3 linked regions of the Homo sapiens genome follow. The protein of the gene in region 3 purifies or fractionates together with the protein of the main gene of each other region. This does not show direct contact. Each region holds a gene or a part of one and is shown on either strand. Other genes may lie near its edges. The genes, in order: NETO2, ATG2B and NLRP10.

Region 1 (3,661 bases), on a different chromosome or scaffold from region 3:
TGCAGAAGCTGCTGGAGCTGGGACCACACTGTGAGTACCACTGCAACAGGAGCATGGCAGATTACTGAAAGCAACAGTGAGAGGTGGCCTTTTCCCTCCTTTGGTAGTGGCAGGAGACATGTTTGGACCAATATGGATTGGGCAGGGCAGGGGTGGGCGAAAAGGAGTTGAGTCGATTTTGGAAACGTTGAACTTGAGGTGAAGGCTCTACTATCTATTCTTATAAGGGCTCCAACAAATACTTCTTGTTTCTGAACATCTGCACTTGCCAGGGACCTTGGACCTCTTTGCTTCCATGAAAGTACATTTTCTAAAACCTGCTTTCTCCAGGAACCCTTTCCAGATTAATTTTACTTGACTGCATTCAGACTTTTCACTTCTGATCATTCAACAGCTCTCCATCTGTTTTTTAATTTTTTTGTTCTTATACTGATTTTGCACACTTCTATGTTAGCATTAGGTTTGGCATGAGTAACAGAAATACCTAAACTAACAGTTTAAAACAAGATAGAAATACATTGCTCTGTCATGCGAACAAGCTGGACATAGGGAGTCAAGCATCAGAGTGAAGGCTCTATAAATACCAGGACCTGGGTTCCTTCTGTCTCACTACCCAGCTGTGAGAGGCTCATTTCCAAGGTCACCCTATGGTCCAGTATGAGGCTGGAGTGCCAGCTATTCTATCTTCATTATAGCTCCCATGTCTGCATTCTAGTTATCAAGAATGATGACTTGATAAAGGGCATTCTCTCTTTCTTTAAAAACACTTGCCCAGGGCCAGGCGCGGTGACTCACGCCTGTAATCCCAGCACTTTGCGAGGCTGAGGTGGGCGGGTCATGAGGTCAGAAGTTCAAGACCAGCCTGAACAATATGGTGAAACCCCGTCTCTAATAAAAATACAAAAATTAGCCGGGCATGGTGGCACACGCCTGTAGTCCCAGCTACTGGGGAGGCTGAGGCAGGAGAATCGCTTGAACCTGGGAGGCAGAGGTTGTGGTGCGCCAAGATCGTGCCACTGCACTCCAGCCTGGGTGACAGAGCAAGACTCCATCTCAAACAAAACAAAACAAAAACACTTGCCCATAATCTACAATGATTTCAAAATAAAAGTTTAAACAACAAAAACAACAATTCCCCTAAGTTGCACACATCATTTTCTACTTATATCTAACTGGCTAGACTTAGTCACATGGTCACCTAAACCAACAGGAAACTGGTAAATAGTCTTCATTTTGGGGAACTGTGCGCTCAGTTAAATTCAGAGAATTACTGACAAATAGTTAAATGGACATTTCTAGACAACTGGAAGTTTCTGCCACAGTCCCTATAGTGTATTATGTACACAGCAGCCAGTGACCTTTTCAAAATACAAATCAGATCACATCACAGCCTTGCTTAAAATCTTCCAGTAGAGTCCCATTATAGTTAGAACAACTCTGTGCCCCTTACTCTGACTTCGGAGGTACTATGTGACCTGGAGCCTGCGTGTCTCTCTGGCCTTCCGAGCGCTCTCTACTAGAACACAGGCCGCCTTCCCATCACTCAAAACACATCAAGCTAATTCTTGCCTCAGGAACCAGCTGTGCCTTCGGCCTAGAATCTCTTTGGCTGATTCCTTCCTGTTGTTCAGGTCTTGTGAGGCTTTCCCAATTTCTAAATAAGCGCTACATTTTCTCCTTCATTTTGCTTTACTTCATTATTATATTACCTGGTATTTTGAGTCTTGTTGGTTGTCTGTCTCTTCTCACTAGAAAGAAGGGCCTTGTCTGTCTGATTCACTGATGCATCTCCACAGCCTAAAAGACTGTCTGGCCTCAACAGTATTCAATACAGACACGATGAACACATGGGGGTGACTGAGCGCGACTCCAGTGCATCTTCTTTGTAACCGCAAACACATAGCACAGTAACTGACAGGCACACATCTTGGATGAACAAACAGTAGCCACACATGTGACCTTGCTTTTTTAAATGCGAGCACAAATCAGGGGATGGGAAAAGAACTGAGATTCCCCCCCACCCTCCTGAGATACCCTGCCACCACTGTTATTTTCCTCAAGCTGGCTCAATTTACCTTTGTTAGTAATTAAGTGTGTCTCTTTCTACATCTTCCTGTGTTAAGCAACTCAGTGGTAAACATAAAGCTTTTAAAATCCAACACAGAGAACCACCTACCTGGTCTCTCTGCTCATTACCATTTCCTATAATGACAGCAGAACAGAGTTCAATTAGAGTCCACATACTATTTGACATGGCAGTCACTTGTTTTTGATAAACTATGTTCCAAAGAACAAAAAAAGTACCCAAATTTAATCAAACTCAATCATACTTTACTAGTTAAGAACAAAGATGGATGGTGAACTTTGGGATCACTCCAGCCTACATATGCTAATGACATGCCAATCACTTTAGTAAGAAAGAGTAACTCTATAGCAGAAGTGCTTTCTCTTTCCTGCAGAATGTGACAAACTCCTCCTTAGTCGAGCTGATCTGAGATGGCGCTTTTGTAAGCTGTATTTTAATTACACATCAGTCCTCCTGACTGTACAGTGACTACCATCACCTTCTAACATGATCAGGTCATATTTGAAAGACTACTTGGTATCTTCTAGTGCTGTAATTTCCAATGTTACTCCAGGCATATTTAAACCAACATGTCTTAATGTCATTTTGATTAGAAAGGACTGAACTTTCAGATTAGTATACCCTGTAATTTTGGAAGCAATATAACAAACCCGTTGAAGTGTCAGTTCTTGGAGCCACCCTGGTGTTTGAGGTGACTGAGAGGGCAAGGCCTCCCACCAATCACAGCAACTCTGTTCTGTTGTCCTTTTTCCTTTTTTTTTCAAGTGCTTCCTCACAAAAGTTCCTCTGAAGTTTGGAAACCATTGGATTAGACCACCTCTTAAGATGCTCCTTTCCAACTCAAAGATCATAATAATTTCAATCTCCAGTGCCTCAGGGAGACGTATTTCTAAGTATAAATAATTATTCTACAGGAGCGTAAGTTGAAAAATGATAGGAGATTGTGCTGGATGGGTGGTACCCCAAGAGAAGGAGGTAGTCTATTGTTTTAAAATTTCAGATATGAACTTTATTTCTAGTCTATCATTTTTCTATCTTTTCTAAAAAGGACTGAAAATGGCTTTGATTTCAACTTGTTTTGTCATGCAGGGTTTTTCCTAAATAGTGATTTTAATTTCAAAATGAAAGATAAACCAGATTGCAGTTGAGGATTTACTACAAAAAAACCATTATTTAATAAGACTTTTCAATTGACAGTGTTAAAACAGTTTTTCCCAACCCCTGGAAGGAAAAGCCAAAAAGTTGATTTTTAATAAGGCTTTAGTATTAAAGGACAAGTTTTTCAGTACCACACTTATTTCTGTATAACTAGTTTATAGTCCTGGGTGAAATGTAAGAATGAAAAACGAGTTAATACTTGCACCGTCTCAGACAAGATTTTTAAATACAGTGCCAAGGAATATTTTTGCTGTTACATTACAAATTTAACCAGTTTCTACAGCTTGAAATATTGCTGAGTCGAACAGATTCTCCTGAAGCAAGTGTGCAGAATAAGAACAAAAAATGGATTTATAATCCTCATGTAATATTTTCATGAGACTATAATGCTTAGTTAACCTTGACAGAAGATTAACT
Region 2 (2,485 bases), on a different chromosome or scaffold from region 3:
GAGCCACAAAAGGTGAGGAATGGCCATTGGCTCACATGACTTTGAGGCCAGGGCAGGCCCAGAGCTGAGAGGGGATTAGAGAAGAGCTACCAAGTCTTCACTTGGCTCAGAGACAGCCACGAGGTGCCTGTGGGCTTCCCTTACCCTGTGCTGCCCACCATGTGCTGAGTATTTCCTTCCTAGCACCTGTCTGTCACATGGAGTGGTCACATCTCTTGCTGGGACCCTGGCTGATACTGAATGTGAATGTTACATTGTCAATACTGATACTGAATGTGAATGTTACATACCCTGGCTGATACTGAATGTGAATGTCCCCCTGCCCTGGTGAATGAGGCAGGGCAGTGTAATACACTGGGTCTCAGAACTTGTCTGCACATGAGAACCAGGGGATCTCTCAAAAATGCCAAAGCGCAGCCCACACCAAAGACCAGCTAAATCCCAATCCCTGGGGTGTATTTTTAAAGCTCCCCAGGGGACTAATGTGCAGACAAGTTTGGGAACCATGACACAGTGGCCAAGAGTGTTGTCGAGTGCCAAGCAGAGGAGTCGCCACATAGGAAATAGTCAATCAATGATGAACTTTTATTTCATATATATTTATATTTTAAAAATTATTACAAGTATTGCTAAAATCAAGAAAACGTGAGCTTACATTGAATAAAGGACATCTGTAAGTAGTAATCATGTGATCTTGGGCAAAGAATTTCCCCTCTCCGGGCTTCGATTTCCTCACCTGCAGACAGGACTAGATGACCACTCGGGTTCACTCACTCATTCATTCATTCATTCACTCATTCACCATTTGCTGATCCCTGACTCTGGGCAAGGCACTGTGCTAGGCACCGGGTCCCTAAGTCCCTTGCCCTCCTGAAGGAAGTCAAACAGGGAAACAGACGTGGATCTACAGTATGCGGGGAGTGCCGCAAAGTTTAACAAACAAAAAAAAGGAAAGCATGCTATAGTGGGAAACAGAGAGGAAGGGAGGGTGGCCAGGCTGCCTGAAGTGGAGCCTCCGGGCTGAGACAGCAGGAGCAGCCAGAGATCCCGACAGAGCATCCGAGTTGGGGCGGCCATAGCGCGTTCTTGCCCCAGGCTGTGCATGATTTTCCCCAGGAGAGCTCTTAGCCCAGTGATTTTTAACAGGGGATTTTTGTCATATTTGGCATATTTGGCCATGTCTGGAGACGTCTTTGGCTGTCACAACTGGGGGAGGGGAGTTTGTTACTGGCATCCAGTGGCCAGAGGCCAGCGGGGGGTGGGAGGGTGGCAACATCCCCTGCATCCTACAATGCACAGGCTGGTCCCAAATGTCAACTGCTGAGGTGGAGAAACCCGACTTTAGCCCCATTCTGAGATTTTGCTTTAATCAGTGTTGACTGTGGCCTGTGGTGCAGCATTTATAGAAAGAAATCTTCCAGGTGGTGCTAACCCCTACTCACGGGCATGCAGAACTGAACCGCTGGGGTGGCTAAGCACAGCCAGAAGAGGGGAGAGGGGCTGGAGACGCCAGGAAGAGATCAAGCACATTTTCTTGCTCAAATATTCTAAGAGCCTTTAATCTCAATCTTCTAGCAAAATTCTGTGGTTTCCCAATTAGTGAAGACTTTTTGCTAAGTTAGGTAACTGCTCCAAGCTTTTCTTAAATGAAGTCCTGGGAAGAGCATGAGGTCTGGAAGTCAAACCATGTGACGGTGAGCAAGTTTCTTGACCTCTCTGAACCTGTCTCCTCATCTGGAAAACAGGGACTCTAGTAACTGCCTCTGAGTGGGGGCTGTGAAATTATAAAAAGACAGTAGGATACTTGGCACACAGTAAGCATCTCACAATTGTCCCCATCCCTTTTTTCAACAAGAGCCATGGGTGAAGTGTGACTTGTCATTTTTTCCCTAATTGTTCAAAGTGGATGTTATATAGTCACATCTGTCACAACAAAATCTTTTAAAGTAAATTGCCCTTAAAAATAAGTATGTCTGGCCAGGCACGGTGGCTCATGCCTGTAATCCCAGCATTTTTGGAGGCTGAGGTCAAGAGTTCGAGACCAGGCTGAGGTTAACCTGGCCAACACGGTGAAACCTCGTCTCTACTAAAAAAACAAAAAATTTGTGGGGCGTGGTGGCAGGTGCCTGTAATCCCAACTACTCAGGAGGCTGAGGCAAGAGAATCGCTTGAACCCAGGAGGTGGAGGCTGCAGTGAGCTAAGATTGCTCCATTGTACTCCAGCCTGGGCAACAAGAGCAAAGCTCCGTCTGAAAAAATAAATAAATAAAATAAAAATAAGTATGTCTTTTAAATATTCCCTTCATAAGTAAAAATACTCCTCCAAATAGTTATCAGTTTCGTGATATCAAACTAGGAGGTGTGTTTGCTGCAAGTCCTTATTGCAGGGATAGGATAACTAATAGAGGGACTAAAATCCAAAGCAGGGAGGGAAGAACTGTTAAAACTCCATACAGCTCAGCAATCAGTAGCAGACAGACCCAAG
Region 3 (2,866 bases):
CAGCACTTTGGGAGGCTGAGACAGGCGGATCACGAGGTCAGGAGATCGAGACCATCCTGGCTAACACGGTGAAACCCCGTCTCTACTAAAAATACAAAAAAATTAGCCGGGCATGGTGGCGTGCGCCTGTGGTCCCAGCTACACGGGAGGCTGAGGCAGGAGAATGGCGTGAACCCGGGAGGCGGAGCTTGCAGTGAGTCGAGATCGCGCCACTGCACTCCAGCCTGGGCGACAGAGCGAAACTCCATCTCAAAAAAAAAAAAAAAAAAAAAAGAACAGGCTTATCTTAGTCCCTTTGGTATTGCTATAAAGCAATACCTGAGACTGGGTAATTTATAAAGAAAAGAGGTTTATTTGGCTCATGGTTTGGCAGGTGGTACAAGAGGCATATTGTCAACATTGACTTCTGGCGAGGCCTCAGGCAGCTTTCAGTTATGGAAGAAGGCAAGGTCAGAGCTGGTGTGTCACATGGCAAGAGAGGGAGGAAGAGAGAGGGGAGGAGGTGCCAGGCTCTTTAAACAACCAGCTCTTGTGTAGCTAATAGAGCAAGAACTCGTTCATTACCGTGGGGAGGGCCCCAAGACATTCATGAGGGATTTGCCCCCATGACAAAAACAACTCCCACTAGGCCCTGCCTCCAACATTGGGGATCACATTTCAACCTGAAATTTGGAGGGGATAAACACCCAAACTATATCAAGGCTCCTATCACTTCACCATCCTCAGGCATCCCTTTCCTTTCCCCTCTCTCTGTCCTCACCTCTTCACATGGAGACATTTCACATGAACACTCAGACATTCATGCATTCTCACACAGGCATTTTGCACTTACATGTATTCTTACAGACACACACTTGCTGATGCACACTGACATGACTTCCCTCCACAACAGTACATGAAGGTCCACGAGCACATGTGGATACCAGCATTCATGCACAACTATCCACACACACAGAGCACACCCTTGCACACTCATACAGATGTGCATATGCATACTGCGCCTGCACACACACACTCATGCACACATACAGTGGCCCCTCCCCATGAAGCCAGAACTATAATCTCAGCAAGATCCAAGTTGGAGACATACAAGAAGACTAATGAGCAGAGTCAGTTTGGAGGGGCCATTTTGCCTTCTAAAATTCCCATTTCACTACCTAACATCCCATTTGTTTGGCTCAGATTACAGAGAAGTATACCGAGAGCATGTGCGCTGCCTAGAGGAATGGCAGGAAGCAGGAGTCAATGGCAGATACAACCAGGTGCTCCTGGTGGCCAAGCCCAGCTCAGAGAGCCCAGAATCACTTGCCTGCCCCTTCCCGGAGCAGGAGCTGGAGTCTGTCACGGTGGAGGCTCTATTTGATTCAGGGGAAAAGCCCTCACTGGCCCCATCCTTAGTTGTGCTACAGGGGTCGGCTGGCACTGGAAAGACAACTCTCGCCAGAAAAATGGTGTTGGACTGGGCCACCGGTACTCTGTACCCAGGCCGGTTTGATTATGTCTTTTATGTAAGCTGCAAAGAAGTGGTCCTGCTGCTGGAGAGCAAACTGGAGCAGCTCCTTTTCTGGTGCTGCGGGGACAATCAAGCCCCTGTCACAGAGATTCTGAGGCAGCCAGAGCGGCTCCTGTTCATCCTGGATGGCTTTGATGAGCTGCAGAGGCCCTTTGAAGAAAAGTTGAAGAAGAGGGGTTTGAGTCCCAAGGAGAGCCTGCTGCACCTTCTAATTAGGAGACATACACTCCCCACGTGCTCCCTTCTCATCACCACCCGGCCCCTGGCTTTGAGGAATCTGGAGCCCTTGCTGAAACAAGCACGTCATGTCCATATCCTAGGCTTCTCTGAGGAGGAGAGGGCGAGGTACTTCAGCTCCTATTTCACGGATGAGAAGCAAGCTGACCGTGCCTTCGACATTGTACAGAAAAATGACATTCTCTACAAAGCGTGTCAGGTTCCAGGCATTTGCTGGGTGGTCTGCTCCTGGCTGCAGGGGCAGATGGAGAGAGGCAAAGTTGTCTTAGAGACACCTAGAAACAGCACTGACATCTTCATGGCTTACGTCTCCACCTTTCTGCCGCCCGATGATGATGGGGGCTGCTCCGAGCTTTCCCGGCACAGGGTCCTGAGGAGTCTGTGCTCCCTAGCAGCTGAAGGGATTCAGCACCAGAGGTTCCTATTTGAAGAAGCTGAGCTCAGGAAACATAATTTAGATGGCCCCAGGCTTGCCGCTTTCCTGAGTAGTAACGACTACCAATTGGGACTTGCCATCAAGAAGTTCTACAGCTTCCGCCACATCAGCTTCCAGGACTTTTTTCATGCCATGTCTTACCTGGTGAAAGAGGACCAAAGCCGGCTGGGGAAGGAGTCCCGCAGAGAAGTGCAAAGGCTGCTGGAGGTAAAGGAGCAGGAAGGGAATGATGAGATGACCCTCACTATGCAGTTTTTACTGGACATCTCGAAAAAAGACAGCTTCTCGAACTTGGAGCTCAAGTTCTGCTTCAGAATTTCTCCCTGTTTAGCGCAGGATCTGAAGCATTTTAAAGAACAGATGGAATCTATGAAGCACAACAGGACCTGGGATTTGGAATTCTCCCTGTATGAAGCTAAAATAAAGAATCTGGTAAAAGGTATTCAGATGAACAATGTATCATTCAAGATAAAACATTCAAATGAAAAGAAATCACAGAGCCAGAATTTATTTTCTGTCAAAAGCAGCTTGAGTCATGGACCTAAGGAGGAGCAAAAATGTCCTTCTGTCCATGGACAGAAGGAGGGCAAAGATAATATAGCAGGAACACAAAAGGAAGCTTCTACTGGAAAAGGCAGAGGGACAGAGGAAACACCAAAAAATACTTACATATAAACCTA

What was found.
Region 1: the proteins of NLRP10 (region 3) and NETO2 purify together in Homo sapiens (affinity purification with mass spectrometry; one large-scale study listed by BioGRID and IntAct). This does not show direct contact.
Region 2: the proteins of NLRP10 (region 3) and ATG2B purify together in Homo sapiens (affinity purification with mass spectrometry; one large-scale study listed by BioGRID and IntAct). This does not show direct contact.

The regions. Positions count from the first base shown.
Region 1 is NC_000016.10:47,137,345-47,141,005, forward strand, and holds part of NETO2 (neuropilin and tolloid-like protein 2 isoform 1 precursor), read right to left. Parts: intron 1-3,661. UniProt on the Homo sapiens protein: Accessory subunit of neuronal kainate-sensitive glutamate receptors, GRIK2 and GRIK3.
Region 2 is NC_000014.9:96,278,631-96,281,115, forward strand, and holds the end of ATG2B (autophagy-related protein 2 homolog B), read right to left. Parts: 3' UTR 565-2,485; downstream 1-564. UniProt on the Homo sapiens protein: Lipid transfer protein required for both autophagosome formation and regulation of lipid droplet morphology and dispersion.
Region 3 is NC_000011.10:7,959,639-7,962,504, reverse strand, and holds part of NLRP10 (NACHT, LRR and PYD domains-containing protein 10), read left to right. Parts: intron 1-1,182; coding exon 1,183-2,861; 3' UTR 2,862-2,866.